5 separate regions of the Homo sapiens genome follow, and all the other regions are linked to region 1. Evidence: fine-mapped expression QTL. A gene starts in region 1. Each other region holds a variant in brackets. All regions are shown on one strand. Distances are between the middles of the regions.

The links. PIP is the estimated chance that this variant, and not a neighbour inherited with it, causes the effect. A credible set is the group of variants that fine-mapping cannot tell apart.
Region 2: its variant is the best candidate, but not a certain one, in a credible set for the expression of TTC12 in whole blood (Lepik 2017, PIP 0.77).
Region 3: its variant is the best candidate, but not a certain one, in a credible set for the expression of TTC12 in NK cells (Schmiedel 2018, PIP 0.71).
Region 4: its variant is the best candidate, but not a certain one, in a credible set for the expression of TTC12 in unexposed skin (GTEx, PIP 0.52).
Region 5: its variant is the best candidate, but not a certain one, in a credible set for the expression of TTC12 in whole blood (TOPMed, PIP 0.84).

Annotation. Positions count from the first base shown.
Region 1 is chr11:113,312,139-113,318,170 of GRCh38, reverse strand. TTC12 (tetratricopeptide repeat domain 12) reads right to left here and starts at 3,588. Exons shown (of 22, transcript NM_017868.4): 1 at 3,553-3,588; 2 at 1,856-1,928. The coding sequence starts at 1,913. It overlaps TTC12-DT (TTC12 divergent transcript), which reads left to right and starts at 3,715. Exons shown (of 5, transcript NR_199709.1): 1 at 3,715-3,841. RefSeq lists silencers at 3,218-3,317, 3,210-3,504, 3,528-3,777.
Region 2 is chr11:113,357,840-113,363,784 of GRCh38, reverse strand. It overlaps TTC12 (tetratricopeptide repeat domain 12), which reads right to left. Exons shown (of 22, transcript NM_017868.4): 17 at 4,324-4,422; 18 at 3,777-3,845; 19 at 1,283-1,384. Among named protein-coding and RNA genes, the nearest start is that of ANKK1, 27 kb to the left of the region's middle. The variant A/C (reference allele first, on the strand shown) is at 2,085.
Region 3 is chr11:113,344,676-113,350,707 of GRCh38, reverse strand. TTC12 (tetratricopeptide repeat domain 12) reads right to left here. Exons shown (of 22, transcript NM_017868.4): 14 at 543-635. Among named protein-coding and RNA genes, the nearest start is that of TTC12, 33 kb to the right of the region's middle. RefSeq lists an enhancer at 5,538-6,032. The variant G/A (reference allele first, on the strand shown) is at 3,380.
Region 4 is chr11:113,366,349-113,372,380 of GRCh38, reverse strand. It overlaps TTC12 (tetratricopeptide repeat domain 12), which reads right to left. Exons shown (of 22, transcript NM_017868.4): 22 at 5,994-6,032. Among named protein-coding and RNA genes, the nearest start is that of ANKK1, 18 kb to the left of the region's middle. The variant G/T (reference allele first, on the strand shown) is at 3,394.
Region 5 is chr11:113,290,414-113,296,445 of GRCh38, reverse strand. All of the region lies in intron 1 of TTC12-DT (TTC12 divergent transcript), which reads left to right. Among named protein-coding and RNA genes, the nearest start is that of NCAM1-AS1, 20 kb to the right of the region's middle. The variant G/C (reference allele first, on the strand shown) is at 3,123.

The DNA of each region.
Region 1 (6,032 bases):
CATGAAAAGAATAATTCTTTGACTGTATTCTCTAGGCCTTACCAACACTCAACACATAGCAAGAGCCCAAGAAGTAAATGTACAGAATCTATACACATGTGGCTACATAAATTTAAATTAATTGAAACAAGCCGCATTTCAAACCTGGGCTGCAGCCACAAACACACAGAACCCTAAGCACTAGACCACAGGGTGGAGTTATAAGCCATATTTCAAATGCTCAATAATCATGTGGCTAGTTGCTACCATAGTGGACAGTGAGGATTATGGAACATTTTCATCATCACAGAAAGCTCTATTGGACAGCACTGGTATACATGATACCTGAATGAACTTTGAGTATGCATAAGTTAGCCAGGTTAAAAAAAAAGATGAAGAGGCAGTGGGAATGGCAAAGATCCAGTGCAGAGTGTGAAACACAGAGTATGTGTGGCGAAGTATCAGCAGTTTATTGCTGCTCAAGCGTGAGGTAGGGAGATATGAGAGAGGTAAGGACAAGGTCATGGGAGGACTTAAGTCCTGATGAGAGCTTGGGATTTATTATGACTGCAAAAGGAATCCAAGCAGAGAAGTGTCTGGGTCAGATTTGCATTTTAGATACATTACTCTGTGGGAAGTATAAGCCTGGAGACAGGAAAAACAATCAGGGGGTTGTTGACATAGTCTGGGTGAGAAGAACCAGAACAAAGGGAGGGCTGGAGAGGATGGCTCTCCAACCAAACTAGATGGCTAATTGGATGCAGGGTTATGAGTTGGGAGGAGTCCCAGATGACCTGTAAATTTCTGGATGGTGGTGTCACCAACTGAGACCAGGATGAAGGTGAGGGTAGGAGAAGCAGGTTTTATTTGGGAGGGGGAGGGCAAAGGGGAGGGAAAGAGATGATGCCTCAATTTTGGACACATTTAAGTTTATTTGTGGGATACAGTAGGTATGACAGTACCATAGAGGCAGAGGCTCAGAAAAGAAGGCTAAGTGTCCATGTAGATGTGGGGGTCATGAACAAACAGGTGGCAGGTAAAGCTACATGTTTAGACCAGCTGAAGAGAAAGGTGGCAGTGGGCCAAGGCCAGAGCTCCATGGAACAGCATTCAGGGATAAGCATTATTCATGTATCATTTACGATGTCACCCAAGCTAGCTTTAAAACCACTTTATTCCTTGAACCCATACAATCTGCTACAAGCAGCAATTTCAGCATATTGCCTGTATTTACTATGTAAGGTCTGTTTGCTTGTTGGTTTGTTTGTTTCTATACTCAAGCAAGCTCCCTGAACAGGGACTGACAGGTTTGGAAATTCCTGAATGTGATCTGTGGGATCAGAGTACATTTCTTTGAGATCCAACCTGCCTGAACTTGGGAAAGGACTTTCTTGTCTAGAGAGAGAGAAGGGAATGATGATCATAAACCATCCATGTAATTTGATGGATCCTAAAGGAAAGCCATTTGATTTTGCCTCTGCAGCTCTAAAACAGAAATGGCTCTACTCTAAAACGGGAGGAATCTCACACTGATCAATGAGGTTCTTGACCCTTGAAGGGAACAGCTGGGTTCATTGTCAATGGGGAAACAGCAGCTGGTTTTGACTGGATTCCACATAGAAGGATACAAAATATGGAAGAAAACCGTCAGCCTGAATTCCTATCAGAATGTTAACAGTTTCTCTGATACCAATTAACAGCCAGAAAATACAGCCCTGAGGCTATAACTTGTTTCTCAATACCCTTCTCTTTAATTTCAATTACATTTTTTTCCTAAGAGTTATAAACCTGTCAAGCCACCCAGGAACTTAGAGCAATCATTTATCTACTCCACTTCTCTAAAGCAGAAATTAATTTATGATTTACTAGTACTTACAGATTTCATCCACATTTTTAAGAAATTTCTGCAAATCTTTCTCTTTATCAGCATCCATTGTGAACCGGAATCCCTAAGGGATGCAGCATAATGGTGAAATTAATAATAATAAAGCACTAAACAGAACGGTCAGGCTTATTAGCCTTCTAAAACTAAGAGCCAAGTGATTATTTTTATGACAGTTTTGTTTATGTCAATGAATAACAGCAGGGTGATCCCTTTCATTCCAACTGCTGTTTTAGGCCAAGAGGCACTCATTTACGTGCGGCAATGCTTCCAGAAAGCTTCCAGCCCTCCTTCCAGTGCAGAAAACGCTCTGCAAATAGTTCTTCCAAAGCCAACATCAACCCCGGCGATTTAGGGACCTGGCATGGAGATGAGAAGAGAGCAGATGACAGGTTGCCAAGGATAGAGAAATACACTAACACCTGACTTTGATCATGACAGGCTGGTCTAGTCAGAAGCTTAAATGTGGATGTGTGACAGGTAACAAACTTGGGGCAATTTGCATCTAAATGTCCATACTTGTTTAAAATCTGCCTTTGGCTTGTTTCTGAAGAGTGAAGAAAGGGTACAAATTGACTGAAGGGATTAGAACATAATGTTACCATGCTCACCAGCGTCTCTTCTGCTCTAGGTACCTCAGATATTATTTTACAGTTGTTTTTGTGCGAGAAGGCCCCGTGGTGTACCCAGCAGTACTCAGTGGTTCATCCACAGATCATAAAAATCATCGGGAAGATTGTTAAATATACAGCTTCCTCAGCCGTAGCCCGAGATTTCAAGTCAGTAAACCCGGGACATTGCCCAGACACGAATATAGATTTTAAACACTTTCCAGGTGATTCTCATTTATGGCCAGGTTTCATAGTAGTGTAACACGCTTCTAACACGTAATCTGCCACGAACAAACTACGAGTGATTTAATCGAGTCTCAGTGTCCTCATCTCCACCAGTTACAAGCTGTGTGATTCTGGCTAAATTCACAACCTCTCCGAGCCTCAGAGTCCTCACCCATACTATGGGAACAGTAAGAGAGAAACTACGAGGACTATTCTGGGGACTGATGTAAAGCACCAGGCACGCGACGAGTCCTCACCGTGAAGCACCCTTACCTATATAAAACAGGGGGTGGGGTTGCGGCTTAACTGAATAATCGCTAGGGTTTCTTCCAGGTCAAATCTTTTCAACTCCCACGGAACAGAGGCCTAGTCCAGTGAATTAATCTGCCCAACGGTATGAAGGTTAGAAGGCAGGCGCGCGGGTGCATGGACAGGAGACAACCTCTGTCTCCCAGGGCATGGATCTCAGGGTCCTCACTGCCTGGCCAGTGCCCCCCTACGCTAGGGTGAGAGGGCCAGAGCCAGGTGATGGCGAAGCGGCGCCGCGCTCAGTGCTTCACTCGGTAGGGCTGCGGCAGCGGGGACCTGTGCCCGAGCCCCGCGCGGAGCCTGCCCCAGACGCGCGCTGCCCGCCGGGCGCAAAGAGGCCAGGCCGCACGCACTGTTGCCCAGCAACCGCTCCCAGGCGTCCGCAAGTCCCGGGCCCTCCATGCAGGTCCCAGACCGCAGCCGTCCCAGACCGCAGCCAAGACCTTCCCATGCTCTGGGGCCCAAAGCAGCGTCCTCTGCTCGGCTCTGAAGGCCAGTGCAGGACCAGCTCCCAGGGGGGATTCCGGGGTACCCCGCGGCACCGACCTGATTCGCCCAGCTTTGGACAGGAAATGGCGCAGTGACCTGCCTGGGCTGGGGCGGGGCCAGGAGCCAGGGGCCCGGGGCGGGACCAAGGGCGGGGCCAGGAGCCAGGGCCCGGGGCGGGACCAAGGACGGGGTCAAAAGCCAGGAGGCGGGACAGGGGGCGGGCATGGACACGCGATCAGATTCGCTACCGCAGAGCTCTAGCTCCGGAGCGCGCCAAGTTGAAGGCCAAAGTCGAGGTTGGGATGCCCGATGCCTGGCGCGGGGAGACGGAGGAAGCAAAGTGCTGGTAACTAAAGCAGCGCCTGCTGCTCGCCTTTTTTCTACTGAAGAAGGGTTGTCTCACTCCCGTTAGCTTAATATCCTTGCCCAAAATGTAAAGTCTCCAGTGTACTTGTGAATCCGGTTTTGTTCATTGATAAATGTGTGAGTTAGAAGACTCACACATTTATCCTTAGGAAAGTTATTTGAGTAACCTTTTTAATCCTCAGTTTTCTCACCTGTGAAATGGAGAAATGGCACTTTCTCATAAGGTTTATGGTTAAAGTGCTGTAACCGCCCAATAGGTTCACCTTGCTCACTGCCTAAACAGAGTCGATTTATCAAGACAGGGGAATTGCAATAGAGAAAGAGTAATTCACACAAAGCTGGCTGTGAGGGAGACCGGAGTTTTATTATTACTCAAATCAGTCTCCCTAGCTTTCAGGGATCAGAGTTTTTAAGGATAATTTGGTGGGTAGGGGTCAGTGAGTCGGGAGTGCTGATTGGTAGGCTAGGAGATGAACTCACAGGGAGTCAAAGCTGTCCTCTTGTGCTGAGTCAGTTGCCAGGTGGGGGTCATAAGACCAGATGAGCCAGTTTATTCATCTGGGTGGTGCCAGCTGATCCATCGAGTGCAGTGTCTGTGAAATATCTTAAGCACTGATCTTAGGTTTTACAATAGTTGATGTTATCCCCAGGAGCAATTTGAGGTTTAGAATCTTGCAGCCTCTAGCTGCATGACTCCTAAACCATAATTTCTAATTTTGTGGCTAATTTGTTAGTCCTGAAAAGGCAGTCTAGTTCCTGGGCAAGAAGGGGGTTTGTTTGGGAAAGGGCTGGTATTGTCTTTGTTTCAAAGCTACACTATAAACTAAGTTCCCCCCAAAGTTAGTTTGGCCTATGCCTAGGAATGAACAAAGACAGCTTGGAGATGAGAAGCAAGATGGAGTCGGTTAGGTCAGATCCCTTTCACCATCTCAGTTATAATTTTGCAATGGTGGTTTCAGTGCCTGGTACCTAGTCAGTAGGAACAGGTGGCACGTGACATCCGGGGAATCATAGGGTTTAGAACAGAATGAGCTAATAGGCACATTCATTCATGCCCCAAATACATGCACACAGCCCTAAAGAAATTTCAGTCTGTTTTTCTAAACAAAATCTCAGAGTATTATGTGCAGGGTTACCAATGGAAAAAAAGCAGGTTTAGGGGAAACTTGAGCTTAAGTTCACGGTCAGAAACACCCGGAACTTCTTGGCAAATGAGTGCTTTATGGAAACCTGTTTGGCAGGGAACAAGGAGCCCCTAGAGATGGAATTCGCCAGAGGGGAGAGGGATCCAGGCATGGCCAGCTAGCTCTAGTGTTGATTCCAAGTACAGCCTGTTGACTCTCTTGTGGCCTAGGCCCCATAGGATGCATGCCTGTGTCCTGTAGAGAACAGAAGAGCTGTTTGGCTGAAGTCTCTATGATGCATTGGTACACATACCATCCTGCTTGGGTACCCCTCTAATGCAGTATAACACAAAGGGGCCACGGATGTTCTGCTCCTCTTGGCAGCTGAATGGGTACAGCATCAGCAGAGTGAGTCTTTTGGCTCATCAACTGCAGCAGGAGACCTGGGGATCCCAGCAGGACATGGTCACAGTGGCTGTCCCAAGGGAATGAGGTGCCTCAGGAGAAGTAGCAGACAGTGTAGGTGCCTGGCAGGAGCAAGGACGTTGATGAGCACAGGCTAGGCACACCATAGGGATCCTCAGAAAGATATAGGGTACTTCACAGTGACCTTCCAGCCTGTGGGAATTGATGGAGACAAGAACCAGTGATGTTTTGGTTATCACCATTAGTATCACCCCATTTTCCTCTTAGGCCTGTGAGGCCTTGAATACATGAAGGCTATATGCCTATGGTCCCCAACCTCAGGGTGTTTCTTATCACATTGAGGCCAATAGTTCCAAATCACTTACTTCCTATCCTACTACTCTTTTCACTAAACTCCTTTCCTAGGTTCCAGAGGTATCTGCCCACAACTGACTGTACCACCTAACCATTCACTCACACATTTGTTCAGCTAGTGTGAGTGGCCTGTAGTGTGCTAGATGCAGCGGAAGGCCCCTGGGGTGCACTTGACAAATAGTCATCACATGCTAAGTGGTTAAGAGCTGGGGCTCTGGAGCCATTTTGCTGGGTTCAAATCTCACATCTCCACCTATTAGCATTCAT
Region 2 (5,945 bases), 46 kb before region 1:
ATTGCTCTTGACCACAAACCACAGCAAGCAGTTATTATAGCGCTAGTGGCTTCCTAAACTCTGAAAAGAGAATTCTACTGAGAACGGCATGTGCTTCCTGGTGGGCAGGCATGGTCCCTGCTGGAACAGAGTGTCACCCGCATCCTCTCTAACCCAGCCCACACCCCTGACAGGAATGTAGGCCTGTCATGTACACCTGAGTAATTGCCTCCGGAAGGCTTTATGAGCAAGTGGCTGAGAAGAGAATGATGCTGATGAATGGCAGATCTACCAAAAAGGGAGGAAAAGGCCCTCCCATGTCATTTTCCCATTTGAGAACGAGGACTGACTTGCTAAGGCTGTCAGGCTGACAGTCCTGCATGAGGAACTTCAGGAACCTACATCATTTTAAGAGATGACAACTGTCAAACACAGCCCTTGCAATCACCCATGTGGGGTCTTTAAAAGGCATGTGTGCACGTATGCACGTGTGATGCATGGGTATGCATGCCATCAGGAGCTTTTGGTGGGTTTGCAAAAGTTATAATGAATGACAGTCATTGTTCAAGTGGCAATCTAAACTCAGACCCCCTGTGCTGCCCCCTCAGTGTCACCCCTGCCCTAGCAGCAGCCCGCAGAGCATGCTTCCCTGCGCCACTCAGCCTGATGCTTTATGAATAAAAGCCATGTGTCACCACACTAACATGGGTGTATGGACCTCATGGGCACACACATCATAGGTGGGATTCTGAGATGGCAGCCTAGTGTATTAATCCCCTTCGCCCTTGCAGGTGAATCCAGATAACTGCTCTACTGGCTTGCTTAGATTCACCACACTCATCTCACAGGGAAATCCCAACATCCTTTGGTCACATGGTAATTCTGCAGGCTACATGTCTCATAGATGGAGTTCCATCCAACACTCTCCAGATAACTGTATAAAGCATCATGAGTAGCAAAACCTGAGCAGAACAATGTGCCTGAGAAACGTTACAGAAAGCCACTCAGATCATTTTTATCAAGAACAGTGGCCATATATTTTTAAGTCAGGCTTGAGGGGTAAGCAGGTTTTATAGATGTATCTAATGAACAATTTTCTTATTTATTCAACAATCTGTTGTTGATGTTCAGAGTATGGTCTGGGTAGACAGGCAGAAGCAAATCCCTATCCAAGAAGTTTAAAATCTAGCAAGGAAGAAATGGCAGCACATTAACCAAACAAAGCCCACCTTAATTCTGTTCCCCGAATAAAATAGGAGACTTCTGTACATTTCAGGGGTTGTAACCAATAAAGTGATCTTACCTTCAGGAATTTCATCATTTTCTTTACCACTCCTGCTCGCAAGGCCTCCTCAACAATTTTCAGAGAGGAAGAAAGGGTCCGGCTCAGAACACCAGCAGCTCTCTGAGTACAGCAGAAAGAGGATAATTAAATGTCCTTTTCAGAAATGCTGACAACCTTTAAAAGCTAACGGGGAGTTTGGTGAGGCAAAAGCAATCATTATATTGGAAGCAAAATATAAAAAATATGATGGCCAAATAATAGAAAGCACTGTTCTTTTTAATAAAGCTGTCAAGGAGCTGTAATCATAGCCCCTTGCCACCCAGAGGCCCATATTATTTCAGCTTCACACAGGATCAACCAGTTCCACTCTGAGAAAGGAAGTTCTCCCTTGTGATTCCTCCCAGAGCTCTGATATCAGCAGGCCCTTTATAAGGAGATGTTTGATTTCCTGGATTGGTCTTCTGTGTCATTTATCTTTATCTTTTCGAATCTTTGTCTTTTGTTCTAGTTTCTGGGATAGTTCATTTACTTTATTTCCCGGCTCTTCTTTCTTTTTTTTTTTTTTTAAATAAATGCCAAGCTGTTACTCTTTTATGGATATAACTATCTTAAATCTTTCTCAGGATACAAATGATAGTTACTATTTTTTTCTTCTGTTTCCTATATCATCTCTATTTCTTTTGGATCAATTTTTATGTTTATCTTGGTTTTCCTATTTATGTGTGTAGCTTTCCTGCAATGTCTGGTTGACCCTTTACCTGCCCAATCACATGTATGAAAAAAGCAAGAAAATATGTTTGGGCATGCTATGTTTATGGGA[A/C]GTTTATCAGAAGTATGGAAAGATATAGAGGTGGCACCCCCGTATACTAGAAAGAAAAATGTTTTCTCCAGTTTTTCAGTTCTTTAGAGATAAAAGTGTTCTGATTTTATGCCTGGAGGATAGATGCCTGCCAGCAAACGCAGCTCCACTGCCTTGTACTTCTGCTCTCTGTTGTATCGGGAGTTTTGAAATCTTCATCCTCTCCAGGGTATTATAAGGCAAACCTGCTACTGCCCAGCTACGTGTTCCTCCATTTGTACTCCATACAAAGGTTTCCTCAGCCCTGCCTCATTAATTACCACCCTTGCAGCTGTTCTCCATCTTCAGGAAACTTGTTAAAATTACTTACCTATTGGTAACCATTGCCTGTTCACTGTCAACGTAGGTCTCTACTTTTTTTGTTCCCCCCCAATGGCTTTAATCTCATTTTAATGAGGTCTCCAGAGGGAGAAAAGATAAACTTGTGTATTATCAATCTTGTTTCCCTAATCTGCTTCCTAAAGATCCTAGAATTTTGCTATAGTTGACACCACGGATCCCCTTTCAGGCCCAAGACAGTGGAGACTGTGCTAGACAAGGACCAGATGCCCATGGTGAAGCTGCTGCTCTGCTCAGCAAGCTGGGAAGCACCCAACGTGGCACACAAGGAATGCTGGGGAAATCTGGCCCAAGAGCTCTCCTAAAGGTTTACTCAGGCACTAGTGTAGGCTCACCTTTAGGTCTGGACCATCCGGAAACGGTGGTGCTTACCACTTTGGGGGTCATAGACCTCTTTTGAGGATCTGATGAAAGCTACGATGCCCCGTCTGTGAAAATGCACACGCACAAAACCTTTGCCCTATCCTGTCTGAATTGACTTTGGGGACGTTTAAAGAGTGCTACCCCCAAACAGGGTATGTTGGATCTACTCAGAACATTTTTTAAACTGTGGAGGCAGTCCTCAGTCTGCAACCCTTGAAAGGCTGGTTTCCCAGACCCACCCTAGATGTGGCCCTAATTGCTTCCCTAGCCATTAGGGTCCTGCCCTGACAGGGAGAAAAACGGGTGATCACTTAATGTGAGTGAAGAATACGTTCTAGGGTGATGGCAAATAGCCTCTTGAATCATACTAATATTCTTCTCCTGATGCACTGTGCTAACATATAGGCCTTTCTCAGTTTTCTTATTCAAATGTCAGACACAGAATTGAGAAAGCCATTTCAGCATATATTTTAAAAAGAGGGTAAAACTATTATGCACAAACAACCTCTAGGATCACTGGCTTAAAATATGGGCTTGGCTTTTTTTTTTTCTTATGGAAAAAAGGGATTCTAAATAAGTTGGACACTTGATCTGTCCAATTTGCACAGGATATTTTGAAATAGGACAGATCGGATCGATTATATCATCTAAGCTGGTTAAATTTCAGACCATACGGAAGGGGGATTCTTAAGTTGGGTTCCTGGACTCTAGGGGATCCACAGATGACGGACACAGCAAGGAGGTCACCAAATCTCTGAAACTGTAGACAAAACCTGGTATTTATGTGCTTGTGTACATTATTCTGAATAGTATATCCACACCATATCTCAGAGTCAGCAGATTCTCAAAGGTGGCAACTTCAAAAAGATTACACTGATAATAAAACAAAACAAAACAAAACAAAACAAGAACAATGGAAGCTGCTTCTGGATTTCCCTGGGAGAAACTTACTGTCAGGATTCCTCCATCCTGGCTGTTTAGTAAAGACAGGCACCTTCTGCTCACCTCCACAGCCCAAACCTACAACAATGGGGAGAGGCCAGCAGGAGATTTTAATTTTCTGACAATCTGAATTCTCAGCGGAGCTTCTTCTGAGCACCGTCTCCTTTTTAGCACCACCACACTATGCCCAGGTTCCCTCACAACACCATCTTTTACTGCTTTTATTCCTCCCCATGTCTGTCTCCCCTAACTCCAGGGCATTACCCTGATAGCAGGAACCGCCTTTTATTTGACTTTGTAAATGCAGCACCTCATACTCTGCTCAGCACACCTTGGATACCCAGTCTGTTTTCTGAGTGAATACATGACTGAGTGGTGATCCATCCATCCCTCAGCAGAGCAAAGGGAGAGCGCATCCCTCCAGCCTTTTCCCATTCCACGGCCAGTGTGTGAGTGTACATGCTTCTGTCTCTTCGTGAACATGAGAATGGTTTTATGCCACAGAATGTGTACAGGTTGTCCCAGGGCTCCAGGCAGGGAGACAAGAATGCCATACCTCAGAGACAAAGGGAGCCTGAAGACACAGGTTCATCATGAGTCCCAGGAGTGTGTAGATAACCTCTCTGAACAGGTCCACATCCTCCTCACACCTGGCCTTGGGAAACAAAACAAGGTAACCAATGACCTTTTTGCCTTACAGCTTTTTATGGTCATCTTTTCCCTTGGACAAGGGTCTCAGAGTTCCCCACACTCCCTAAATTGCCAATGTCATGAACCTAAATGATGGTGGAGGATCAGAGACCAGTTCTATGAGTTAGTGTTGGTCCAGGAGACTTGGAAGGAGTCTCTGGTGCCTCTGCCATGGGACTATGGCTGAGGTTGGTCCTGGGTTTAAAGTGAAGAGTCAGCTGCTGAGACGGGTGATCATTCAACTCCACCAGAAAAATCCTTCAAATCAGGATCAGGCAAGATGGCTAACTAGATACAGCCAGGTGGAACAGCTCCCACTGAGGGACAGAGATGACTGACATGCTCCTAATAGATCTTCAAAGGGAAGGCACTGAGAGTAGATGAAGGGAAGATGCAGAAGCAGGGCAGAAAGGGAGTAACTGGGAATGCTGCATGCAAGCCTATGTACCAAGGCTTGTTCTTGGTCCCCAAAGGCTCTTGGGGAATGGGTGAGTTGAACTGGCAAAGAGCAACCTGATCTCATCATAGGCCTCTGGAACCCTGGCAGGAGAAATCCCCTTGACCAGCACAGACACTCATCGAGTTGTCAGGGAGAGCTGCTTAGAGAAGTGGTAGGGGTGGCAAGCCAGTTGATGTGGAGCCCAGAGGGTTGGGCGTAGAAGTGTCTGTAGTGGAGAATGGCCAGGGACAGCCATCCCCACTAGGCTCAACTTGCTCCCACAGGAGACTTTAGCCCTCGGGGAATCATCAGACCTGAACTCTGCAGGGTGGTCTTGCCCATCAAACAGGGCCAGTCCAACTTGAGGACCCCTTGCTCTGCTGGCCTCTCCTGGGGCCCCAGCCAGGCCACACCTGCTTGCTGAGCAGTCTTGGGGGCTCTGGGGGCCCACACCATAGCTTCTGCACTGGCAGACCATGCCTGACCAGTGGAGAGCACCAGCAGAGTACCCCATCACCATGCACCAGCCCACATGCTCCCTCCCCACACTGCAGCTTCCCCTGGGCCCAGGGCAACTCCCCACATCACTTTGCTGGTGAGTGTCTGATCAGGCAGGTTTTGCTTTCCTTGCCCTGCCAGAGCACGGGAGTGCAGTCCTGCCCCTCCTCTTCCCACTGATCACCATTGCAGATGGAGTCTTGATGGGCACAGCTAGCCCCACCCCTACCAGCACCTTCCCCTTGCCCTTGTGCTAGCATGGCATAGAGTATAGCAGATCCTTCTCCCCCTAGGAGCAACCTCCTCTGCTTGTGAGGCACAGAGAAGGCACAATCTTCAGCATGACCACACACACAGTCATCAGCAGGGACCCTCTCCCCCAGCTGCGTTGCCTCTGCCATTGTGGCAAACACCCGCAGGGAGGCAGGCACCCTGACACCTGCTAGCACTCTGCCACAGGTCTTCTGCTGCTGTTGGCATGAGTGAACAAGTTAAGGTCCCATTGTCACCACATTATGAAATTCTTGGGCTAACAACACCCATTGGAGTGT
Region 3 (6,032 bases), 33 kb before region 1:
ACTTTAAAAAAAAGCAACTGAAAAATTATGAAAACTAAGACCCTTACTATCATCCCCAGCAGCTAGACAAAACAAAACAAAACAACACAAAGCCATGGGGCAGAAGGAGGTCATTACTCATAATGTCACTGGCAACCCCAGAGGAGGCTGCAGTTGACTGTTCATTCTTGCTTGCTGGCTCGCTGGCTCGCTCAGGTTCATTCAACGCAAATTTGCTGGGCAGCTCCTATGTACCAGGCACTGATTAGGAGGGAGGAAGGTTCCTGACACTTGGGAGGCTTGCCTACTGTGAGAGGCACTGCTTTAAGTATGCTGCTGCTTCCAAACCCATGGAGGCCCGGGTCAGCCTCTATGCAGAGTGACTAGAATGGGAGTGGGTGGCTGCAGCCCCCTGGGAGGCATCAGCCCTCCTACTCAGTGAATCTTGCAATACTCACTTGGAGACTTGGCCTAGCCTCTCTGAATACAGCACATTTTTAAAGATCAGACAGTTCAACAAAGACTGAAGAAGAAATGTCAATTTCTATAAATAAAAAAATTACCTTTCTTCCAGAGCCAAGTCTGTGAACAGTCCCATAGCAGTGTTGGCCTCCTTATCCGAGAAATCAAGAAATGACACCAGCGCTTCCAATAATCTGCAAAAAACCATAATAACCTCAGAGGTAGCTGTCCTCCAACTAACAACATCCCAACAGGGTAACCTTGCAAGGAAACCAAAAAAGGAGTCAGCATCCGGGTGAAATAAGCAGAAAGGGTGCCTTGTCATGCCCTCCTAGGAAGCCTAGCTCCTTGCCCACCCAGAGACAGATACTCTTAAGTGGTTGGCTCCACCACTTAATGTGAATCCCCAGAATGCTGAATACTTTTAACCAAAGTTTATTGATTATCGGACGCCAGCTCAGAAGGAGTTTCTGTGACTCTGCCATGTGACTCTGGCTCAGTCAGGTTCATTAACTTAGATGACATCTAAATGGCATGCTTACTAATCTGCTGATGACTAAAGTGGGAGGGCCCCCTAATAAGGTGGGTGACGGAATAAAGATTTAACAAGATTGTGACAGGCTGCTGAATATATTAGATTAAATTTAATAGGGTTAAGCTCAAAGTCCTCCACTTAGAGCTGGAAATTCTGCTTAAGTAACAGAATTGTGAGACCTGGTTTATAACTGGTTCCTATGAGAAAGATTTAAGGATTTTTAGCCACTTACAAACACAAAATGAGCAAACAGTCTAACACAGATGCCAAAAAACACCTGATGAAATCTCAGGCTGCCCAAACGGACTTACTGGCACCATGACAATGGAAGTAAGAGTAATTTGTTCATCCAGCAAACTTGCATTAAGCATCTATAAGGTGCTAAGTATACTGTGCTCAGTACTGAGCTCCTGGTCTCCTACAGTGATACACATGTAAATAAATAAGATAAACTGTCTTAGGTGATATGTCAGAGACAGACACATGTTGAGGGGACCAGAGTCTCACTGGTGGAAGGTGTGGGCATGGAAGTGAAGAAGCCTTCAATAGATGACACTTCAGTGTCTCTTGAAGTGTAGTGTTAGCTATTCATTCGTTTATCCATTTGACCAATCACAATGAACAAGCACTGACTGTGTACCAGGCAATGTGGTCAGTTCTGAGGTCATAATGATGAAACAAGACAATGTCCTGGCTCCAGGCAGCTTGCAGGCCAGTGTCGGGCCCACAGGGATGGGTACAGAGGCATGTCAGGCAAAGCAGCCTGTAGTCACAGACTATGTGGGCATAGAATTGCAGGAGCACATTTGGGGACTGCTGGCATGCAGTTAATGCTTAGGATGTGAGGGGAGAACAGGGGATGGTAGAGAGCTGGACAGAGCCCAGATCCTGGGGGCCTTCTAGGGCCTGCTGGAAAGTCTGTACTTTGCCCTGTTGGCCCCTGTTCTCCAATGTGTGGTTGGTGGTGGGGGTCTCTGGGACAGATTCCTCAGTTACTCTGAGTGGGAGGAAGCTCCAGGAGGCTGCTTTTTTATAAAGTCCTCATGTGATTCCTAGCCATTATATTTCTCAGTAATTGGAGAACCAGCCTTACAAGGAATAGTCATTTCAGTGTGTTAAGTAGGAAAATAGCAGAACAGATGTGCATTTTAGAAAAATCCCTTCAGTGTATGGTGGAGGCTGGATTGGAGCAGGTAGTACAAGAGGCAGGAATTCAACCAGGGGAGAACTGTGATTGTCCAGATAATAAAGGCTAAGGGACCAGACTGAGGCAGCAGCAGAGTAAGAGGTACAGTAAAAACACAAAGAGACACTCATGAAGACCTGGAAGAAATGATTGGAGACAGTAGAGGAGAACTAGAAGAAAATGAATTCAGGAGATGCTAAGGAGAAAGAGCTGGCAGCATACTATCTTATGGATGTGGTGAGGGAGAGCCAGGTCACTTCCAGGACATTGGCTTAGGCGACTGGATAGGTGGAGATACCCTCTGTGAAGACAGGAAATTCAGGTAGATGAACTGGTGTGAAGACCCAATTTTGATTTATTAAGTCGATGATACTTGTGGATGTTGTGATAGAGATGTCCAGTGGCAGAAGGGCGTTTTCATCTCACACTCAACAGAGTGAGACTTACACCCTTTGCCTCTTGACGAAAGCCATGGATGGGAAGAGGGCCAAGGGTAGGATCCTGGGGTCCCTGACTTGGAAGGGTGATAGCATAGGGGGGCTTGCAAAGGAAACCACAAAGGAATAGCCAGGAGGTAGGAGAGGGGCCAGGAAGGATGGTGTCCTGACAATCACTGTGATGGAGTTTCCAGAAGAGTAGTGATCAATAGGACCAAATGCCACAGGGCAGAGAAGGGCAGGGACTTTGACCTTGACATCTTTAAGAAAGACAGATGACAGGCCATCAGATTGGGCTTTTGGGAATATGAATTCCAGTCACCCACATCTATGGTGCTGGATCTATTTAGCCACTTATTCTAGGAGTGGTCTGGAGGCCAAATCATCAAAGGAATGATGGAGGTAACAAGGATGCTTAACCTGGAATATATCAGTATTTTCAGATATCTAAAGTACTGGAAAGCTGGGAGGAGTCTGGGCCTGGGCCTCAGTGTATGGAGGCAGAATCAGCCCCAGAATAGTACGGGGCAGGCAACTTGTGCACAGTGTAAGGAGATAATTTATCTCAATCAGAACTGTCTTGAAATGGACAGTTGGCTACCTTGGGAGGTGAGATCCACAGCCTCTCGCTAATTGGGGAAAGACTTCCTCCACTCAGTCTATTAGCTGCGTTAGTGCCCATCCCGAATCAAATGGAGATTAAAAATAATGAAAACTGCTGGCATCTCCCCTGGAGGGCACCATGCACAGGCTGTATGGGGGTACGCAGAGGACATCTAT[G/A]CTGAGTGGGGCTTGACTGGATGGTTTCTAAGGGCCCAGGTGACGCCAAGCTTCTGCAAATCCCTAACATCTTCAGGAATGGATTCCAGTGCTCCTGCTGTCAAAAATAATTTATTTGTTTTACAGTTAGTTCAGATTCATCCTTCACCAATTTAAACCTATTTTCTTCGGTCTTGAAGATGACTGCTAATGAACCTGAATAGCACAGATGAGACAACAGTCTAAGACCATCTTGGCTTTGTCCTGGCAGACATAAGCAGCTAGGCCCCCTCACTATGTGACAATGCACACATCCTAACTGGACTCAGCACCTAGAGAGGACGGTGTGTCCCTTTCTATTTCCTCACATACCCTCTTTTTTGGTGGCAGATTTTCTGCTCTGCTGATAAGCAGCTGTCTCTGTGAGTGAACCACAGGTGAGAAAATGCTTTCATGTAACTAATAAATGCAAGGTTACTTCAGTTTAGGACCCTAAACAATATACCCTAAGAGAAAATGATTATAAAAATATTATTGAGCCCTTATCATACCATGTGTCAGGCTTAATTGATGTTAGTTGCTTTTTTTTTTTTTTTTTCTGTAGCAGATGCTGTTTGCTGGCTAACCTCACAGATATTCTCCATTCCCTTCTATTCTTCCTAACTCTACTACAGAAGAAGTTGGGACCATTTTTTTTCCACTAGGGGTAGCATGTGACACAATTCTGTCCAAAGAGAAATAGGCAGTAGGTTTTCTTGATAAAAGGGACCGATCCAGCTGGTATTGACCTGTCTTAAAGAAGGATGTGAAGCTTGGAGTTGCAGCAAGAGGGAAGGTATGACCATGTGAGGAAGGTCAAGAGAAGGGCAGAGACTTGGACCTCGACGTCTTTAAGCCACCGCACCAATAGCTGCTATCTTTAGTCTCATTTTATTAGGTGACAAAACAAGCCAGGCTTTATTTTGCTTAAGCTCCTTTTGCTCAAGTATTCTGCACAATGCAGCAGAAAAAATTCAACTGCATCACCCCCCGTGTCATCATAAGTGAGTGATGCAGATGAGATGCCGGGGCCTGTCCATGCTAAATAACTTTCCTGGGTCACACAAGCAGAGACATGCAGGGAATTGAAACTCAGTACGCTTAAGACTAAAACCCAGCACTTTTTACAAAATGACACTGGCCCTTGGCCAGCACACATTCATGCCTTCAACCTCTTCTCTGAGGATAAACATTGTGGGAGGAATGTGATACGTGTGCTGCCGTGACGGTCAAGGGGCTATGTGCAGCAGCCCTGTCTTGCTTCAAACTGCCTCGTTTCATCACAGAGAACCCATTCTGTCTGGTTCAACTGGAGATGAACGTTAAGGAGGCTAGTGGGCATAAAAGTAAAAAGCTGAGGTTTCTCTGACTATCTTAGAGAGAGTAGGCAGGACCACCCGAGGTGATCATGAACGCCACTCTCCGAGACACTGGAAAAATGCACATTGAAGCTCAAGCAATTCAAAGATAGCTTGAGGGGAAAAGCTCATGATAGCTATAGCTACATTTACTCAAAGAGACAAAAACAATATTAAAAAAATACGATGAAGGTATCGAGGAAATGACTGCAGAGTCATTTGAAATGTGAAATGTGCTTTTGGGGAATTGAACTCCACTAACAATCTGCATCTGCCGTGCAGGCTGAGCTTCAGTGGGTTGCCAAAGCCTTTCCTGGGAGCCACTGAGGCTGCGACTGGGCCTGGAAGGGGAGCCGTAGGCAAGGCTTAATAACCATCCTGTCACGGCACACATGGACCTACATACCAAATTGGACAGTGTGGGAGGGCTCAGCAGGGTCCCAAAAAGATCTGGAAGGAACAGGAGCCAGTTGTAGCAGGTTTGGCTCCTTTTCCCACTGGGAACACAGAGCGGAGCTGGGTCCTCAGAACAGTACCTGGGGGCCAGCCTAGTTGGGTGAGATTCCCTTGGTTCCTTGCTGCAGTTCTTCCTGCCCCATGAGTGACATGAGGTAATAAAGCTTACCTTGCCTACCCCGCAGGATGAGGGGAGATAAAACAAAATAGCAGTGAATGAAAAAACTCAGAAGGGTCATCTCCTGTTTTTAGATTGTGTGAGAAACATTTATAAAGCAAGCTACAATAATTGCCACTATTTCTGTTAGATTGAACCACATAAAATGGCTGGCATGCAACCTTTTAGATCTAATAAGTGGCAATTTCATATGTTCAAACTAATCATGTAAAGATAAATAAACTGAAAACTTAGTAAGATAAAAGTAAATAAATACGTAAAACAAGTGAGCAAAATAACAAATAAATAAATGATTTAAAAAATAAACTAATAAATTATAAAGGACGGGGCAGAATCACTGTGGTTCAGTAATCTTTCTAGAAAGTCTACTTAGGGTACACACATTCTATGCCCATAGTCTTACACTTTGGAAAGACCTCCATGCAACAGTATTTGAAATGTTTTATTTATTCATACTCCATCTTGTTCCACAAAGGGTTTAAGGACACGTAGAATAAGACAGGATTACCTCAAATAAGAATGAAAGAAGAAAACGAATGGCAGGAACAGGGTAGAGATAGGACCGAGGCCAAAGACGGAGAAGCAAGTGACCTATTTTAAGGTGGGGCTCCTGATCTGGCTACGGAAGCACTGCCATTTGCAC
Region 4 (6,032 bases), 54 kb before region 1:
TTTCAGAGGATTCTCCTGGCTGCAGTGTGCATGATGGCTTAGAAGGTGGAGTGAGATGGGGAGATCAGCAAGGAGGCTATGGCAATAAGTCAAGTTAACTAAATCCAGCACCTGTCTTTTTCTTATTTTCCCCTGATGTTGATGATACAGTGCAGAATTCAGCAATGCCTAATACCACAGAATGTACATTTCAATCCTTCATGCTCTTCCTGTGCCTGCCCTGTGTTCCATCTAGATTCTCTCGGCCCTCCTTGCCAGCTCAGCCTGCCATTTGGAGGCCTACTTCTTTATCCCCCACCTTTAGGGTAGAGTCACATAGAAACCCTTCCAACCCTGATAAAAATCCTCACATTTAAGAACCCCAGAAAAGAGCATATAGGGATGGCCGGGTGGGGCCATCTATGGAAGTATGCTCAACCAACATGACCACAACAGGAGTGCCCATCTCCTCAGGGCTTCCATGTGCCAAGTACGGTGATGAGAGCTTTATAGAAATCATCTCATTTAATCCCCACAACAAACCTAAGAAGTGGGTATCATATCTCCCCTATTGCCTTTTACAGACAAGGCAATCGAGGGGCTAAGCCACTCACTAAGGTTATGAAACTTAAAACTTAAAGCGAGGTTATGAAATTTAAAGCAAGGTGGAGGAGGACTTTGAGCCTGCACTCCCACCACTGAGCTTCCTGCCTCTCCGGGTCTTGTTGGAGTCCCTACCCCACTCTGGACCATTAGTTCAGAGGGTTCTTGAACAAAGGTAAGAACATTGAAGATACTTCACTTGGCCTTTCTGAGTCTCAGATTCCTTATTTATAAAATAAGGGGGCATGGACTAGCCATTTTGGAGCAATTAATTGTATTTAGACAATGAATCAGATGGACTCCAACAAAGCAGATACAGTCAGCCCTCTGTACCCTCGGGTTCCAAATTTGCAGATTCAACCAACTGCAGATCAAAAATATTTGGGGAAAAAACAATAAAAATAACACTCCAACAATAAAAAATAATACAAATTTTAAGAAATACAGTATATCCACTATTTACATAGAATTTACATTGTGTTAGGTATTATAAGCAATCTAGAGATGATTTAAAGTATATGAGAATGTATGTAGGTTATATGCAAATATGATGCATTTCATATAGGGGACCTGAGCATCCCAGGGCTTTGGTATCTGTGGTATCAATCCCTGGTGGATACAAAGGGATGACTGTAGAGGATTAGATGATCCCTGAATACTTTTCAGCTTGGACATTCTAGGAGCCTTTTCTTCAGCCTCTTGTTCCAATAATTCTCACTATCTTGCTGTGCCTTTGATCTAGTGTAAATCACCTTGCACGTTAACTCACCTATTTTAATGTGCAAATTCATCTCCCAGCAGCAGCGAGATGAATTCCGTGTGTGTGGGGGTGTGTGTATGTGTGTGCTTGTTGCCCGAGGGGAGTTGAGGGATCTAAATGAGCATCCAGAGCTGCTGAAGATAAGAAGCCCAAACATAAAGTTGGGGACAGATGTGACAATGGAGTGATGCTCAGGCTGAGCTGAATCAGCACATCTGGCAGGCAGCCACCCTCATTTAAAGCAGTTCCTTCCAACCCGCTGGTGACAGGAGCCCTGCTCCAGAACTGGGGAGATCTGAGGCTGGGGTGGCTGGCAGAGGTAATCGGCAGCCCACTGTTCCCTGCTTTGCCAGCACCCTAAGGCTCCCTCCTACCTAAGCCAGGGCTGAGCCTCAGAGCAGCCAAGAAAGCCTGATCCAGCCCCAGGGCAAAATCAGACCACAGGGCAGAATGTCTCCAGGGAGAACTCCTTCATCATTTTGCCTTTTTGAAATTGAGATCAAATTAGGAGTCTTATTAAAAGGAAATAAGTCATCCAGCAGCTTCAGGTCACAGAAGCCCAGTGCTTGGCTGGCATGTGGCCACCCACAGGGCCGGGAGCTGCTGGAGGAGGTGGTGGGCAACTGGATGTCCCGCTGGGCTAGCACTCCTCTTTCTAGGGCATCAGGGAGGGTAGGGGGATGCAGCTCTGGGGCTTTAGGAGAAAAGAACTAATGACATCCTGATGAATATATGATTGGAGCTACAGTCATTGCAATCAACAGGTTTTCCTGATTATAAACTGAGGACAAACTGCAAGTAACAGAGGAGTATCTGTTTGCAAAGAGGATTTTAGAGCATTGATCCTAGCACCTTCCACTTCACACTGGGTCCTGTTGATGCCCATGCACCCCTGGCCCCAGGCCCTGACAAGGAGCGCTGCTACCCTATCCCTGAGCCCTGAGTTGCTCTGAACCCCATCCCACCCAAGACCAGTGCTCTCAGGCCCTGCTGCCATGGGGTCATGTAAGAAGGCAGGCTTCTGGCTGGCAGCTGGCTCTTGGGGGATCTTCATGTTTGCCACCAGTCACAGGAGAGAGGGAAAGGTAAACAGAGCCAAATACATGCTTGCCTTCAGTGAGACGGAGGACCAAGGAAGATAAGCAGATCCGTGAGGGTGGGAGGGGGCAGATAATGGGCTCATGGTCATTTCTGTTCTCAAAAAGAGTCGCCATTAAGTAAATACTTTCTATCTGTCAGTCACCTATGCTAGGTACTTCATGTATATTATATCCAAACCACAGAAGGAGAGGTAGGTGTTGATGCTCCCATTTTATAGAGAGGAAACTGGGGCTCTGAGAAATGTGGTGACTTTTCTGCAGGTCACACTTAGTAAGGAGAGGAATGTTTTACATGCAGGAAGAGTTAAGAACACAGCTTGGGGTCAAATTCTGACTCCCCTGCTTCCTGGCTATGTGATCCTGGGTGGGAAAGTACTATTCTGTTTTTATCTTATTTACCTGTAAAGTGGAGATAATACCCACCTCACAGTCGTTATGAGGCTTATGTTAGGGCAGGATCTTCAAGTTTTGATAGGGTGCCTAGTGCAGAGCAAAGGCACAATGCACGGGGGGTGGGGGGGCGGGCATGGTGGCTCGCATCTGTAATCCCAGCACTTTGGGAGGCTGAGGCAGGTGGATCACTTGAGGTCAGGAGTTCGAGACCAGCCTGGTCAACATGGTGAAACACCATATTTCATAAAAATATGAAAATTTGGGATACGGACGCATGCCTGTAATCCCAGCTATGGGAAGCTGAGACATGAGAATCACTTGAACCTGGGAGGCAGAGGTTGCAGTGAGCTGAGATCACACCACTGCACTCCAGCCTGGCCGATAAAGTGAGGCTCTGTTTCAAAACAAACAAACAAACAAACAAACAATGCACAGGCAGGCTTTATTCTTTCTCTCTGCGTGTCTGCAGGATGCCAGTCTATGAGGACCAAAAGCTCATTCCCTGGGAAAGGGAGTCAGCTCTAAATGGGTTTTCTTCACCTCTGATTATTCTCTCCT[G/T]TAACGGAACCCTTGGAGAGCCTCTATTTTCAAGTTATTTAGAAAATGAGACCTCTTACTTAAAAAAAGTCATGTGGTATTAAATGTCTTCTTGTCCTCAGAATATTAGGTTAGTGCAAAAGAAATTGCAGTTTTTGTCATTACTTTTAATGGCAAAAACTGCAATTAGTTTTGCACCAACCTAATACTTCTTAGTCATACTTCCCCTCAGTTCTCCAAGCCAAGAAGCTCTTATTTGAACCTATCCTTAAAAAAGTGTTTACAATAGCAGCCCGTGACCTGTTGCAGCATCTCAGCCCCTTCCTATTGTTTCCTCTCAACTCTGAACCTCAGTCCCACCTTGCGGCGCACTGGAACCACCGTCCTCACGTCATGTATGAAGACAGTGAGCAGCTCTGGACTGTCTGTTACCTGCCACCTCTGCTGTGGCTTCAGGATGGTGATGGAGTTCCATCCCGGCCACATCCTCTTTAGGATGGAAAATCCCAGCTCCTCTGCTTGTTGAACCAGAAGACTCTGATTACCTGGAACAAGCCGTGTCTCCAAGGGTGGTGTCGGGGCTCCTGGCAAGTGGAGATGAGGCCTTCTGAAAGATGGCGCTGGTATTTTCCATGCTGCCTGGAAGGTCTGCATGGTAGCATGTGTTAGGGGTAACAAGTTTGGGGCGGTGGCGGGGGTGGATCCACACTGGAGAGGGAGAATACTAGCATGTGAAACATCTCTTCCCACCTGCGAGGAGACAGAGCTTCAGGTGCAGCAGACTCTCTTCCAAATTGGAGATGACTGCTCTCGGCAGGCACTCTGGAACAATAAACATAATAACGTAATTTGACATTCCCCACTCTTTGGGGAAGAGAATACACCTATCATAGCCATTTTCAAGAGCCAAGAAGGAGGGCAGCCATAGCAGGGGAAGGCGGGGCCTGAACTTCAAAGGAGACAGGGCTGGTGGTTATGAACACAAACAGCCTTTCCGTTTTCAAAGCTCCACGGAATTCTGTGAAAACAGCAACTTTTGCACCCTCTAATTTTCTTCTTTGTGCTCTGATTAGCATCGAGCCGTTCTCCCTTTGCAATTCAGTAGCCTCTTGAAGGGTGTTTGTTTGCATGATAGGACTGATGGGCAGGTCCTGGCTAGTGGCCTGTCACTTGCTTGCCACCCAGGGCGCCACCACAGAGTGCCCCAGTGAGCTCCCTCCAGCCATGCGCAGTACATCAATCTGAATGAGGGGCTCAGGCCATTGATTTTCTTCCACCGCCCACCCCCGTCACCAAATGCCAATTATTTATCTCCGTTTCAGAAACGAAGTTCTTAATTTAAGCCAACAGCTGCCTTACCTGTGAAGAACACTTTCTTTGGGTGTGTTGAATAACATCTCCCTGGAGGAGGAGGATTTCCTTTCCTACATGCTTCAGAGAATGGCCAGCTTGATTCCTTAAAGGACATGAGCTTCATCCTTTCCCAGACCCTTCAAACTTAACCCAAATGACGTCATAGTTGACACCCTCAATCTCAAGATAGAGTCTGGTAATCTCTTATATTTGCGTAGTACTTTATAATTCCCAAAGTGCCTTCACCTCCAAAACTTCATTTAACCTTTACAACAATGGAGGAGGTAGGTTGGGCAGGTATTAGTGTTTCCAGAAGCAGTAGCCAAAGCTCAGAGAGGTTAAGCAACTTGCCCAAAGTCACATGGCTGGCAGGGCAGGTAGCAGGGTACGACCAAAAGTCTTTGGAACTTTGGTCTGGGACTCCTGACATTCACTGTACCATGAAGACCCTGCCTCCTACTCTAAAATGATTCTGTGATTGTAAGGAGCCAGAGATAATGCCACTTATTGGACTTCTCACTTAGGGACTTGCAGTCCACAGGTGACCCTGGTTTAGAGTGACCCTGGGGCAACTGGAAGGGAGCGTTGCCTCTGGGGATGGGGTGAGAGTACAAGGTGGGTTAGGGAAATCAACACATTTGCATCAGTCAGGGTTCACTGTAGAAAGAGAAGCCTGTGCTTTGGCACCTTTAGCAGAGAACAATCTAACCCATGGAACAGGGTGCCTATAGCACCACCAGATGGGCTGGAGGAGGGTGCCAGAGGGACCCCCAGGAATGATTCCCAGAATGATTCACGCAGAGTTCTCCTAACAGGGGAGACACCACCTACCACTCACCCCACTGAATTTAACGGCACATGCAGTGGCTGCAGGCCAGGAGTCAGCTGCAGGCCACCAATGATGCCAATGCAACTCTCTCTCAGCACTCCACAGCTGGAAAAACGGAGCTGAAATGCTGCTACCAACAAATCTGATGTTTCTAGCATATTGCCAGCAGAAAATAGCAAAAGGGGTAGGAAGTGGCATTAGATTGGCCACTAGTTCCCATCTAGAATCGTTGCTACAAGGGAGTCTGGGCAATGTGGCTTTTTGTGAGATGGTTTCTAGCTTCTACAGAACAGGAAAGAACATTCAAAGGAGGGTACAATGGAAGTCGAGTAAGCCAGTGCACAGAGCCCACCACAGCAGCCAGCCTAATGCCCACTCTCTTGTTACCCGTGAAAACCTGAAATGCAAACACTCTAAAAATGAGTACTTGATTCTGAAGTGGATACATCAAAGGTCTTTATTAGCATAGGAACAACAC
Region 5 (6,032 bases), 22 kb after region 1:
TCGCACTAAGTCCATTTCAGCTCTAGGTAAGGTTAAATCCTTCTGTAATCTGGATTTTCAGGTTCCCCAGTGAGGATGTGTGTTCGGAGGCCAGTTTTCCCCCTCTCACACTTTGGGAACTCACCGTTTTTTGCCTGTCTCACAGAATTTGCAGTGGCAATGCCGCTTCTTTCAAAAGATCTGTGAATATTTTTGCTTCACTTTCTAGTTTCACTGTTAATATAGGCAACAACCCACTGTGGTATTAGCATCAGCTGTGATGTCACTTATGCTGAGCAACACTTTGAAATCACAGTCGAAGCTTCCAACTGAAGCATCTTACACATGCTACCAGACCTTGTGTTTTGAAGAACTGATAAATAAGCACATGTATTACTGATGCGGTGTCATTGTCTGGGGTAAATACTCGGGGTTCGTCATCTCATGCCAAGAAAAGTTAGGACACAGGCACACACAAGGAGTTTAGGAGCAGAGGTTTCATAGGCAAAAGGAAGAGAAAGGAGAACAGCTCTCTCTCTCTCTAGTGAGAGAGAGGGGCTTCCAAAAGGAAGGACGAGCTGGCGGTGGAGTTTTCTGGATTTTATAGGCAGACTTGAGGAAGTGGTGTCTGATTTATGTAGAGCCCACAGATTGGTTCGATCAGGTGTGACGTTTACATAGTATGTGGGGAAGGCTGGCCACCCCACTCTAATCTTATTATGCAAATGGGCTTTTCACTTGACCAGAAAGCCCTTACTGTACACTTGGCTGTTAAAGAGAAGGGAAGATGGAGCCGCCATTTTGAACATGTCTAGTCTCAGGTAGCTTTTTCCTGCTGGCATTCACTGGTGCAAGCCTCTAGCTTGTTTGTCTATGTCTGCATCTGGATTTTACAGGCTGCTCTTTGTTAGAAAATGATTTGGGGGCTGCTTTTCATTAAAAAGGAAAATCTTACTGAGAACTCCTGTACCTTCACTATCTGCCTTAGTAATTTCTTCTTAATTCCTATGCCACAAATTTTTTTAAAAAATAGTTTAATAATCGTATATCAATGCAACTGTTTTCCTTTATAATCCCATGTATTTCATTTCAAAAAATCAATACATTAAAATTTAAAATATTCTGAGACTAGGTCCATAGGCTTCACTTGACTACCTGGATTATAGCAAAAATAAATATCCCCAACAGAAGAATTCCAGGTAATAATTGTAGGTACTCCCATTTCTAAGGGGTGGAGCTCAGTTCCTTTCCCCTTGAGTGTTCATTGGATTTAGTGATTCACTTCTAAAGAACAGAGTATGGAAGGGGAAAGTAGTAACCTTTTACGTTGATGTCATAATCCCTGAAGTCATGCAATGAGAAAAGGACCTCACCTCTGACATTCTTCCCCCAGAATCTATAACCCTATTCTAATCGTGAGGGAAATCATTACAAACCCAAATGGAGGGACATTCTGTGAAATACCTGACCAGTACTCTTCAAAAGTGTCAAGGTCATGACAGACAAGGAAAGTACTGCAGTCTGGAGAATATTAAGGAGAAGACTAAGCAGAAACCTAGGCTCCTGAGAACTAGGTACAACGTGGTTCCCTGGATGAGATCCTGGCACAGAAAAAGGACATTGGCAGAGAACTGGTGAAATCTAAATAAAATTTTTAGTTTAGGTAGTATCACTCTACTAATGCTAATTCTTTAGTTGGTAAGACTTCTCTGGCTATATCAGATATAACCAAAGGGGAGTAACATTAGAAGAACCTGGGTTAAGTGTATGCAGGAACTCCTCATACTATCTTTGCAACTCTTCTGTAAATCTAATATTTTTCCACATTAAAAGTTTAAAGAAAATCCCCTACAACTTCTTGTCCTAAACCACTCTCTCCTCCCAACTTCTAGTTCATGAATTCATTTGTTTATCCATTCAACAAATGTACTGAGCAACAACTTAGTGGCATGGGGATGGAGCAGGGGCATGAAGACAATGACAAGACAATGTGAAGACAGTGGCCTCAAGGAGCTTATGGTCTTTCCTGCAAATCTGCAAGACCTGCAGACAGTTATGATGCGATGGCATGAATGCTTCAGTGGAGAATTGTGCAGTGTGTGACACAAGCATAGGAGAAGGAAGAGAAGTAGGACTTTGCCAGGTGAGCAAGGCACTGTGGGCACAGTGACGAGCAGGTGTGCAGGCACACAGGTGAGAGAACACAGTGTCATCAGGAAACTATCAGTAATTCCATCTTATAGGAGTGAGTAATACAAGGGGAAGTTGCACTCAGTGAGGCACAGAGGGAGACAGGGGGGATATTCCAAGGATTGAGATTTTGTCCTGCAGGTGAAGGTAAACAACTGATGTGTTCTAAGCAAGTGAGTCACAGATTTGCACTACAGAAAGATAAGAAACCGGACAAGGTGGAGGCTCTCCGGCTACGGACAGAGGAATGACCCCAGGCTCTGTGCCTTGCCTTCTGCTTTGAGTCCTTCCTCTATTACGTCTCCCTGGACTGGTCCTCACTGCCTGAACACCCCCATCCTTTTTCTCTGCCTCCCTGCCTTAGAGCATCGATGTAGCCTTGGATTGTGCCATTCCTTGTTGAGACAGCTCCACAGACTATACATGTATGTCCTTTACTCACCTCTCACTTGCTGACTTCTTAGTGTTGTGGCTGGTGCTCAGCCACCAGGACTTTGCCTATGGGCAAGGAAGTGCATACAATTGCAAAGCACAGATGGGAGGCGTTGAGAGACCAAGTCAGCAGTTGCCGGGTTGGAGAGGAGGAGATGAATACAAGAGATGTTCAGTAGAGAAAATCAATAGAAAACATTGACAAATTGGAAATGGGGAGAGAGAAAGGAAGGATTCTGATGACAATGCCAGCTATTCAGCTTACAGAAGCGAATGGATGGCTCTGCCCTTCTCTGTGATAGGCAACAGAGGAAGGCGGGGGAGGGGAGGAGTTGGAGGAGGAGGGATGAAGAAAGGGATAATGAGAAGCTTTGGTGGGTTGAATTCATTGTGCTGGGGAAACAGTTGTCCATCCAGACTTTGGAAGAACCATTTAGGAAGAGGATAAAGATGTGAGGTTATCCACATATTTCTAGTATCCTGTGACAATAGGGTACATGTATGTATCCATACACATATGT[G/C]TCTCTTCCTCTTAAGCCAGTTTTCACTGAGAAAAATAAAGAGCTCTGAGCATAGAGTAAAATAAGTCTTGATTCAGGTTCTAGTTCTGCCATGTCCCATTTGTATCAAGGCTCTCCAGAGAAAACCAATGTGTCCACTGAGAAGTCCTGGGAGCAATGAGTACACTACACCAGCATCTCTTGAAACTTAGGTTTCCTGAAGAAATGGCTGCTTCCAGGACTGAAGAAGAGAAAGGACGAGATGAGAATGTAACATCCTGTTGTGTCAGGAAGTAATGAAGTGCTCAAAGAATGATTAGGTCATGTAAAAACCAGAAACCAGATGGAATGGGCTCCCACTGAGTGACCGGATCAGGGACAATCTGCACATCAAAATAAATAATGAAGCTAACAGAATTCACTGAAAACTAGACAATCACTAGTCTAGTCTAGTGGTTTTCTGATAGTGTTTATCTGATAGATAAACAATCAATTGAAAGTTTGATGGGGCACGGGATATTTACAAAGTTTTAAAGTCCCTCTACACATAGCATGCCCTCAATTAATGTTAATACTACCACAATGAACAAATGCTTTTTAACTACAAAGAGGGGAAAAGAGTGACTTCACAGCAAAAAAGCCTGGCAGACACCACCTTAATCAAGTGATCCAAGTGGGCATCGTCAGACACAGGAGGATGGAGATCACGTGCCACTTGGTAAGATGAAGCCAGAGTGAGAGGACCAGCTCCATGGCATTCCTGTGAAAGAGCAGCACCTGAATTTCGTTGTGAGAAAATGTTGGACAAGCTAAAATTGAGGGTCATTCTACAAAACCAATGGCCTGAACTCTTCGAAAATGTCAAGATCGTGACAAACAAAACAGAACTCATCTTCCAGATTGATGGAGACTAGAGAGGCATGAAACTAAAAAAAATGGTGTGTTCCTGGAGTGAATGTTGAACACACAAAGATTATTTTTCTTTTGTTTAAGGATCATCAGAGGAACAACTGGAGAAATTTGAATAAGGACTGCAGGTTAAAAAATAGTATTGTATCCATGTTAATTTTTTTTGAGACGGAGTCTGTCTGTGGCCCAGGCTGGAGTGCAGTGGTGGTGCGATCTTGCCTCACTGCAAGCTCCGCCTCCCGGGTTCACGCCATTCTCCTGCCTCAGCCTCCCGAGTAGCTGGGACTACAGGCGCCTGCCACCATGCCTGGCTAATTTTTTTTGTATTTTTAGTAGAGACGGGGTTTCACCATGTTAGCCAGGATGGTCTCGATCTCCTGACCTCGTGATCTGACTGCCTCGGCCTCCCAAAGTGCTGGGATTACAGAGGTGAGCCACTGCACCTGGCCCCATGCTAATTTCTTGACATTGATTTTGATCTTGATTATGTAGGGGAGAGAAGGTCCTTGCTTATAAGAAATAGTACAATATTCACAGGTGCTGGAGCATCTGGCCAGAAATTTACTTTCAAGTGTTCAAGAAAAAGAAACATCTTTGCATTGCATTTGCATTTTTAATGTAAGTTTATGATTATGATTGGGAGTTGCTGAAGACATTTGTGTATGTGTGTGTGTGACCAGTTTTTCCCTAATCTACCACAATATTGTCCTTTTTTTCAACCTACCACAATGGCCAAAGAAGAACTCTTATTTCCAATCCTAGATAGGCTCCTTATCTCAATAAATGGCCTGAAACATTTGCTTTCTTGCTTAAGACAAAGCCTAGGAGACATCCTGACCCCCTTTTAAGCCACATCTTCCATCCAACCTACCAGCAAGTCCTGCCAAGCCTACTTCCAACACAGATCTTGAACTTGTTCTCTTTCCATGGCTGCTGCTTCCTCCCTCACATGAGCCACCCCATGTGCGTGTGAAGGGGAATTTCATAAACAGGTCCATAGGAGGCTATGATCTCTCTGTGTCCCGTGGCCACATGTCTGGCAGTAGACCTGAGGTTGAGCTTGGTCAGAAGGATGCTGACGGTCAGCTGAACTTGCGTGGAGGAGAGCAAAGGTGTGCAGGACTCATGAGCACCTCCACATTTCTCTGTCACTGCAGGAGACTATAAGTCCTTAAGAGCATGATGGACACCACGTCCTTCTGCCTTCAAATCACACATGAGTTCTTCCTTTGTCTAATTCTAACTGGAACCATACAAACAAGGGGGTCTAGGAAATGTGACTGCTAGCAAACATGTCGATGAGCGCATTCCCATTGCATCGGCCCCTGCCCATGCAACCTCAAGAAGCCATGTGACCTCACTCTATCCCATCATTCTGCTCAGGCCTCTGCAGAGCTGCTGCATTCTCAGTGGTTTACGGTGGCATTCTCCGCCAGGAAGTTAACTCGGGAGCATGGATCACATCCATTTTGGTGCCTACTGAATCTCTAGCACTAGAGCAGTGCCTTAGTCCATTCAGGCTAAAATCCACAGACTGGGTGGCTTATTAACAACGGAAATGTATTTCTTACAGTTGGGAAGGCTGGAAGTCCAAGATCAAGGCACTAGTAAATGGTGTCTGGTGAGGTCCCACTTCCTGGGTCATAGACCTTCTTCTCACTGTGTCCTCACATGGTGGAATGGGTGAGGGAGCTCTCTGGGGTCTCTTTCATCAGGGCATTAAACAAGGGATCCACCCTCATGATCTAGTCACCTCCCAAAATCCCTTAGGGGTTAGGATTGGGGGTTAGGAGTTCGACAAATGAACTGTAAATAACAACATTCAGTTTATAGCAAACAGGGAGTGGCACATGGTAATGAATAAATGCCCCCCCCCCCACTCACCTTGACATATGATTCTCTATTTTTGGATCTGCTACTTACAACAGCTTACTTCCACATGCTAATTTTTTAAATTACATAGCAATTATTAGTACTTTTTTATTTTAAGTTAAAAAAAAATCCCACACAAATTGACTTCAG